Homo sapiens: one gene and its partner. The protein of the gene in region 2 interacts with the protein of the main gene of each other region in a biochemical or structural test. Each region holds a gene or a part of one and is shown on either strand. Other genes may lie near its edges.

The links.
Region 1: the proteins of DCAF17 (region 2) and CUL4B form a complex in vitro, tested with the Homo sapiens proteins (one study listed by BioGRID).

Annotation. Positions count from the first base shown.
Region 1 is NC_000023.11:120,540,463-120,544,293, forward strand, and holds part of CUL4B (cullin-4B), read right to left. Parts: intron 3,742-3,831; coding exon 3,652-3,741; intron 3,348-3,651; coding exon 3,265-3,347; intron 2,572-3,264; coding exon 2,504-2,571; intron 1,259-2,503; coding exon 1,140-1,258; intron 101-1,139; coding exon 1-100.
Region 2 is NC_000002.12:171,482,253-171,485,747, reverse strand, and holds the end of DCAF17 (DDB1- and CUL4-associated factor 17), read right to left. Parts: 3' UTR 696-3,495; downstream 1-695. UniProt on the Homo sapiens protein: May function as a substrate receptor for CUL4-DDB1 E3 ubiquitin-protein ligase complex.

The DNA of each region.
Region 1 (3,831 bases), on a different chromosome or scaffold from region 2:
AGATATCAATTATATGGTCAACCTTATCTTTAAAATCCAGCAATTCTTGAACCATGGTTTTATCTTTTTCAGGATTAATTACAATAGTGCTGCCAAATGCCTAAAACAAAAAATTACCACTTTTTACTGTAATCGAATTGTCTACAATGAAAACAATCCCCAAATCATATTTTAAGTGGCATATATATTTAAAGATCTTTAAAAAGTAAGATAAAGCTATTTTTAAGATGGAATCTTGCTATGTTGCCCAGGCTAGTCTGAAACTCCTAGGCTGAAAGGATCCTCCTGCCTCAGCCTCCCAAGTAGCTGGAGTTACAGGCATGTACCACTGCACCTGGCAAAATAAAGCTGATAGTGAAATGAGGACAAAAAAATAAAGTGCTAAATATCCACACTGTTAACCACTCATCTATAATCACAAAAATAGTAAGCAATGATCACTGGGCATATGATATCATAACAGGGTATTATTAGAAGCCTCTGGGATCTTTTCCTTATTTTTAAAGAAGTCAGCTTTCAACTTCCTTAAAATGGCAATCTGGCTTTAGTGTAAGATTGAAGAAAGGAAAGAAATTTGGGGTTCAAAGTCTTTTTCTACATTTACTGCTTTAAGTGGTAGAGACAGAAATTATGTCAGCCATCAATCAGGTTTTATAGCTGATATGCCACACAGCTACCATTCTCAGGTTGACTGTTCTCAAAATTCCCATTACTTTTTAAACAAATTTAAAATTCCCTTAAAAGAACTGGATCAAGTCCGGGTGTGGTGGCTCACGCCTGTAATCCCAGCACTTTGGGAGGCCAAGGCGGGTGGATCATTTGAGTTCAGGAGTTCAAGGCCAGCCTGACCAACATGGTGAAACCCCGTCTCTACTAAAAATACAAAATTAGCCAGGCATGGTGGTGCATGCCTGTAATCCTAGCTACTTGGGAGGCTGAGGCAGGAGAATCACTTGAACCTGGGAGGCAGAGGTTGCAGCGAGCTAAGATCGTGCCACCGCACTCCAGCCTGGGTGACGAGAGCAAAACTCTGTCTCAAAAAAAAAAAAATTGGATCAAACAAGAAATGCTTGCCAATATGCACTCTTGATGTGTAGATAAGCCATAAGAGAGAAAAATCACAGGTAAATTGTTAATACCTTGATATATTCGATCCACTGCTGCAAAAGAACCTGAACTCCACCTCGAACTCTACTGAAGAGCTGATACAGAAGAGACAAATCTTGAATTCGGTTTTCATCAAGGAGGTTATTTAAACCTGTATTTTAAAACATTTTGGCATTAAAATATAGTGAACAAAAAAGTGAACAAGATTATCAGACATTTTAATAAAATTTGAGTTATAATCATTATTGTGATACTGGTTTGAACTATGACTAGTCTGTATGTGAGTTGTAATGTAAGATTTCCTTTGAATTAAACCCAACCATCTTTCTGGGTAAAAACTAAATATAGAGACTTTAGTCGCTATAAAAATAAAAACAGGCCAGGCACGGTGGCTCACACCTGTAATCCCAGCACTTTGGGAGGCTGAGGCAGGAGGATCAATTGAAGCCAGGAGGTCAAGACCAGCCTGGGCACAACAGTAAGACCCCCTCCCCCTCTCTATTTTAATTCAAAAAGTTAAAAAAATTAAAAAGAAAAAGAAAAATGGTTAACTCCATAATGGTTTGTGCCATTTAGCATGATAGATTAGAGGCAAAAACAAACTTATAAAAACTGGCTTACATAAATATACATTATAAATACCTCATATATGTAGTAGCCATATTATGTACATAGTTATATTTCAGAATACTGGATATAGCCTGTGATATATCAAAAGCCATGCATAAATAGGTCAAATTTAAATGAGGCTCTAATAAATATTTGATTTCCAGGATGAAATAACAGTATAACTGCATTAAATTTCTAAATATATAAATTTTTATACAAAAGAAAATATTATTGGGGAGAAAGGTAAGGCTTTTACCTATTTGCGGCATTCTCAAAGTAAAATGTAGGGTATACTCTAAATTCACTTGGGATTAGAAGTGCTTGGTTTGACATGCCATGAACAACAAAAAACCCTCACCGCTTTAGTGTAAAAAGGAATACCTTTCCTTACTGAAAGCTTACATATTAAGTCAAGAATTTCCCACTTTTTTTCTTTTATTTTATTTAAAGAGACGAGAGTCTCACTATGTTGCCCAGGCTGACCTCAAACTCCTGGGCTGAAGCAATCCTCCTGCCTCAGCCTCTCAAGTAGCTGATACTACAGGCACATATCAACCACTGTTTTTTTATTGGTATTTGTGGATCCCTCTCTTCTAGTTCCTGTATCTTTCAGATAAGAAAACTGGCACCTCCAGGAAGTTTACTGTGATTAATAAGGATTGTGTCCATCCTCAGAAATGCAGCCACATGCTATCAAACTTTTAAAAGGGCAACATCTTTAAAAATTCCCTACTAGTTTGCCACTACCATTTAAAAAGCAATCTCTTATTTACAAATTGCCAATTACCTTTCTGAAGAATTGCTGTTAAGTGTTCACCTAGAAGTTGTTTTTCTACAGTAGCAATTAATGACTTCCTACAAGGAAAAAAAAAAAGGTTAGTATTATTGACGTTTGACTTCCAGAAAATGTAAAGCCTCTCCTGAGGGGGGAAAAAAATCAAATAGCTCATTTTATGTTGATTTCAAGATTCCTATCCTATGTATAAATTTATTGGTGCTCAGAGTTACTATACTTTATGCCTAAAAGAAAAAGACATAAAGGAACTGACAGGCAAAAATTTTAAAAAAACACTGCATATTTTAGAATTTGGTTTACATAACGAAATAAATATCTCCAAGACCTTGCTGTAGTCGGCTTTTTCCAAGTTTTGCTACTTTTATTAGGAAGGTAAAGAAGTACTACATACAGAGGCCCCTCGACTGGCAATATTAATACTTAGGAAAGCACAGAAATAGGGGAATCCACTGAATTTTAATTGGCCTGAAGAGTTTAAAGGTCACATCAGCCTCTAGTATTATTTCTAAATTACCTTCTAAACACACACACACACACACACACACACACACACACACACCCCTAATAATCGAATCCTTGGATGAAAACTAATTAACTAGGGAAAAGAATAACTTGAAGTTTGTATTATGAAAACAACTGTTAACACTTCAAATCACACCTGAAAACAGTTACTAACATGTTTAGGATGGCTAAAGTGCTGCAAGTGATTTAACGACAGTTTAAGACTATTAAATTCAGCATGTGGTACTTACTGGGTGGTCTGATCTAAGTAAGTAATAAGTCTGTCTGCTTCTTCTTCTAGACGTTTGTTAACATGATGTAGATATTCAGGAACCTACAAAGATAGTTTTTTACATTATTGTTTTCCTCCCCATAAATCATTCAGAAAATGTCAAGTCCAAAAGATCCTGGAAGTGGCCCTGTCAAATGTGACAGGGTAGAATCATATGTAAAAATTTATAGGTAGAGTTTATGATCCAGAATTCTGGCCTTTAAGAAGAGAGAAAAGAAAGGAGCACCTAAGTGAGAGAAGAGCATCACAATGTTGGGAAGATAAATGCAAAGGGAAGCTTATATTCTACAAAGTAAGGTCTATTGTGAGAGACAGTGAGAATTTATTAGTCATGATTTTTAAATACCTCTCTTTCTTGCATTAATTTTTGGCCTTCAGCTGCATAGAGCCGGTTAGTTTCTTCCAAAAATCGTTGTTCAAAAGAATCTTGATAAATCTGGAGGGGGAACAAAATGAAGGAGATCATTTATTTAGCAAATATTTACTAAATGTCCTCTATGTCTATGTAAACAGCATTATGAATTTG
Region 2 (3,495 bases):
GGCCTAGAATACTACAGTTAGTGAGAAAAGGATACAGCTTGTTTAATATGCTCTCATATTAGAGAAAAAAAATTCACCTGATTTCACCTGTTATCATGTACATGATAACACGAACTCAACTTTTGAAGAAAAAAGTCACCTTTCTGCTTTTATTATAATGATTGTTGTGACCTCTTCTCCAGTGCCATTTTGTCCAGCTCCAGTAGTCATGTGAAACGGTGGAACACGTGCCCTTAGAACCCAGGTTGTTCCCAACTATGATCTCCATTAAAGGAATCAGGGTTCTTTGATGAGCAATGTATCCCATGTTTGAGAAAGAATAATTCAAGCTGAGTTTTGGGGTATCTTAACTATTATCACAAAGGATGTTTTCAGCAGTTCCTGGGGAAGGAAGGAGGTCAAGTTGACAAGAGGGTTGCTAACCACAAGTAGAAACAATCTGAGTATCAACTAGAAATGATTACACACCCAGCATAAATACTAAGATAAAGAAGACTAACAACCACACATGCTGGAGAATGTGTGGAGCAAGTGGAAGTCTCCTACATTGCTGCAAGCATGTAAAATCGTACAATCCTTTGGGGAAAAGGTCTGGCAGTTTCTTATTAAACTAAATATACACCTACCCAAGGACCCGAAAATTCCATCCCCAGGTATTTACCCAAGAGAAATAAAGACACATGTTCACAAAAGAATTGTCTAAGAATGTTCATAGCAGCTTTATTCATAACAGTAAAAAACAAGCAGAAAGAGCCCAGTGTCCATCAACAGAAAGATAAAAAAACAAACTGTGATATATTCATACGAAAGAATACTCAGCAATAAAAAGAAATGAATCACTGACACATGCAACAACATGAATAAATCTCAAAAACATTATGCTAAGTGAAAGAAGCATTACATTTTGTATAATTTCACTCATATGAAGTTTAGAACAGGTAAATTTAACCTTTGATATAAAAGAATGAGAACAGTAGTTATACCTGAGGGGTGGGGAGGGGATAGACTGGGAGAGGGATTTAGGAAACTTTCTGAAGATGATTGCAATGGTCTAAATTTTGGAAAGGGTTTGGGTTACACAGGTGTATATGTCTGCAAGAACTCAGTAAATTTATACTTAAGATTTGTACATTTTATTGCAGGTAAATCTTAAATCAAAAAAATTTAAAAACTAAATAAATACTAAACTCTAGTTAATAATCTGCAGTTGAAGTACTAGGGGGAAGTATATCAGCAACTGCAATTTATTTTGAAATCCATCAAAAAGTACGCTGGATAGGAAAATAATAAAACAAGTAGAGTAAGATGTAGAATCCCCGTGGTCAGTATTTACTATAAAATTCTTTCAATTTTACTGTATGTTTGAACATTTTTCATAATAAAATGATGGGAAAAAGACCTCAGTAGGTCTTATCTTTCTATTGTATGTCCCTTGTTTGAAATAAATTATTCTTTCTGCAAGATACAGATTTGATAGCAACACAGGGACCAGAAATTAGCTCCCTGGGATTCTAAAAGATGGATGATATAAGTAAACATGGTAAGAAGGAGAAGAAAATATAAAAATGATTAATATGGAAGCCAAATAATATGAAAACTACTAATACTGATTATCACCACAAACAAAGGGAAAGTACCTTTTAATGACTGCTAACCATTGAATGAAGAACTACATTTTCTGTCAATTTATGTGTGACTTGTATCTTACCCAAATTTGTTCAAAATTTAGACACTGAATCATCAGTAAAAAACGATTATTAAGCACTTTCCTACATATCTAGTATTATAGTTGTTGGTATGCTAAATTGGGATAAAATAACATGCCTTGCCTTTTGAGAACTTTGGAGGAAATTTGGCACAAGTTCATGCCGAACAAATCTGGTTATGTTTCCCACCTCTGCACTGACTAGTTGTGGGACCCTGGGCCAATTAACTTCTGTGAGCCTCACTTTCCTCATTTGTACAAAGGGGAAAGATAATGGCAGTTCATACTTCATGTGGTTATTCTGAATATTAAATGAGACAACCCACTTTACTTATACTGTATCACAGTGACTAGTAGATAGAAAGTGCTCAATAAATATATTATTTAAAAAAAGAACTGTAAGATACAAAACTTTCAATTGGTGGAAGAATGTGAAGTGCCTTAATTTGTCTAAACAGAGCGGTATCTCCTCACTAGGTAGCACAAATAGTAAATAGGATAGGATTTGTTTTGTTTTCTCCCAGAGTTGTGATAAATATTGTAAAAAATTGAGGAACAATAAGCTTGCTGCATTGATGCTCTGAGAATGCAGAAACTTAGATCCAGGAGTGCAATGCAGAATGCACCTCTTTTCAGCGTAACGTCTGTACCTGCTGATGGAAGCTACCCTGCTTCACCTGGGCTTGCATTAAACACTCAGAATTGTTACCCATAATGTTTTGTACCTGTCACTAGTACCTGTTAAGTAGGTGGGCATGTAGCTAGAGTCTCGAATTAAAATATCAGGTAAAGAGGGGGTTTAGGTAGGGCAGGAAGACATTAATGTCTGGCAGGTGGCAGAATGAGCAGCTGTGTGACACTCTGGCGAGCTGGGAAGCATGCTTCATTGTCTCTCGCTATGTGTGGTATCCAAATTCCCCACATTCTTTGCTATCTTCTGTATCTTCTGGCATCTTTTTACCATCTATCTTGTTAACAACCATGCAGCCTACATTCCCACATACTGTTGCAACTGGCTGAAACTAAGCAGTAGCAGCTGCTCCTTTTAGTTGGGGCATAGCTCTCCTGTTTGTTACACTGCCCACAACTCCTTACTGTCTTTCACATGAGGTATATTTCCTGCCTGGCCTGGATGGCATTTGGACCCTGGTCTAGTTAGATTTAGGCAGTGGTGACATACTGGGGGTTTCTTAGTGGTAAGTTATATCTAGACCAGAAGTATTCCACCATCTACCCCCAGCAAAAAAGCAGCCAGGAATTCAGCTATTTCTCAAATGCCTTTCAGAATAGACGAGTTCCTTACTATCATTTCATAAAAGGAAGGTGATGACTTAAAGGAGAAGGAGAAACTCAATAATCACCTAAAAAAAAAAATCTCTGACATGACTGAAGTCTTAAGACATCCTATTCTGAAACACTCTTGGAAATGGAGAATGAACACTCTACTTTTACACAGCATTGCAGCTGCTTTGAAACTCACACAACATTGGTTTCTTTCTTTAGTACTTTCACTGGCCTCTTACTGGTCTTGTTTTTCAAGATGTAAGTTTACTGAGTGGGACTATTTAGATACAGCTAGTGTCTAATTGAAAGTATGGGGCAATGTCTAGCACCAGGGCAGAACTGGGAAGAATTCACATCATTCTTAACATGGCATCAAGCCAAAACTGAAAAAAAAAATGGAAAGATTTTAATATAAATCATCCAAGCTAAAAATTCCATATTTTAACCTTAAACTTGAATCAGCAATGATTGTTGCTGCTGTTTCCTTCCCTTATTACCAGTTATTC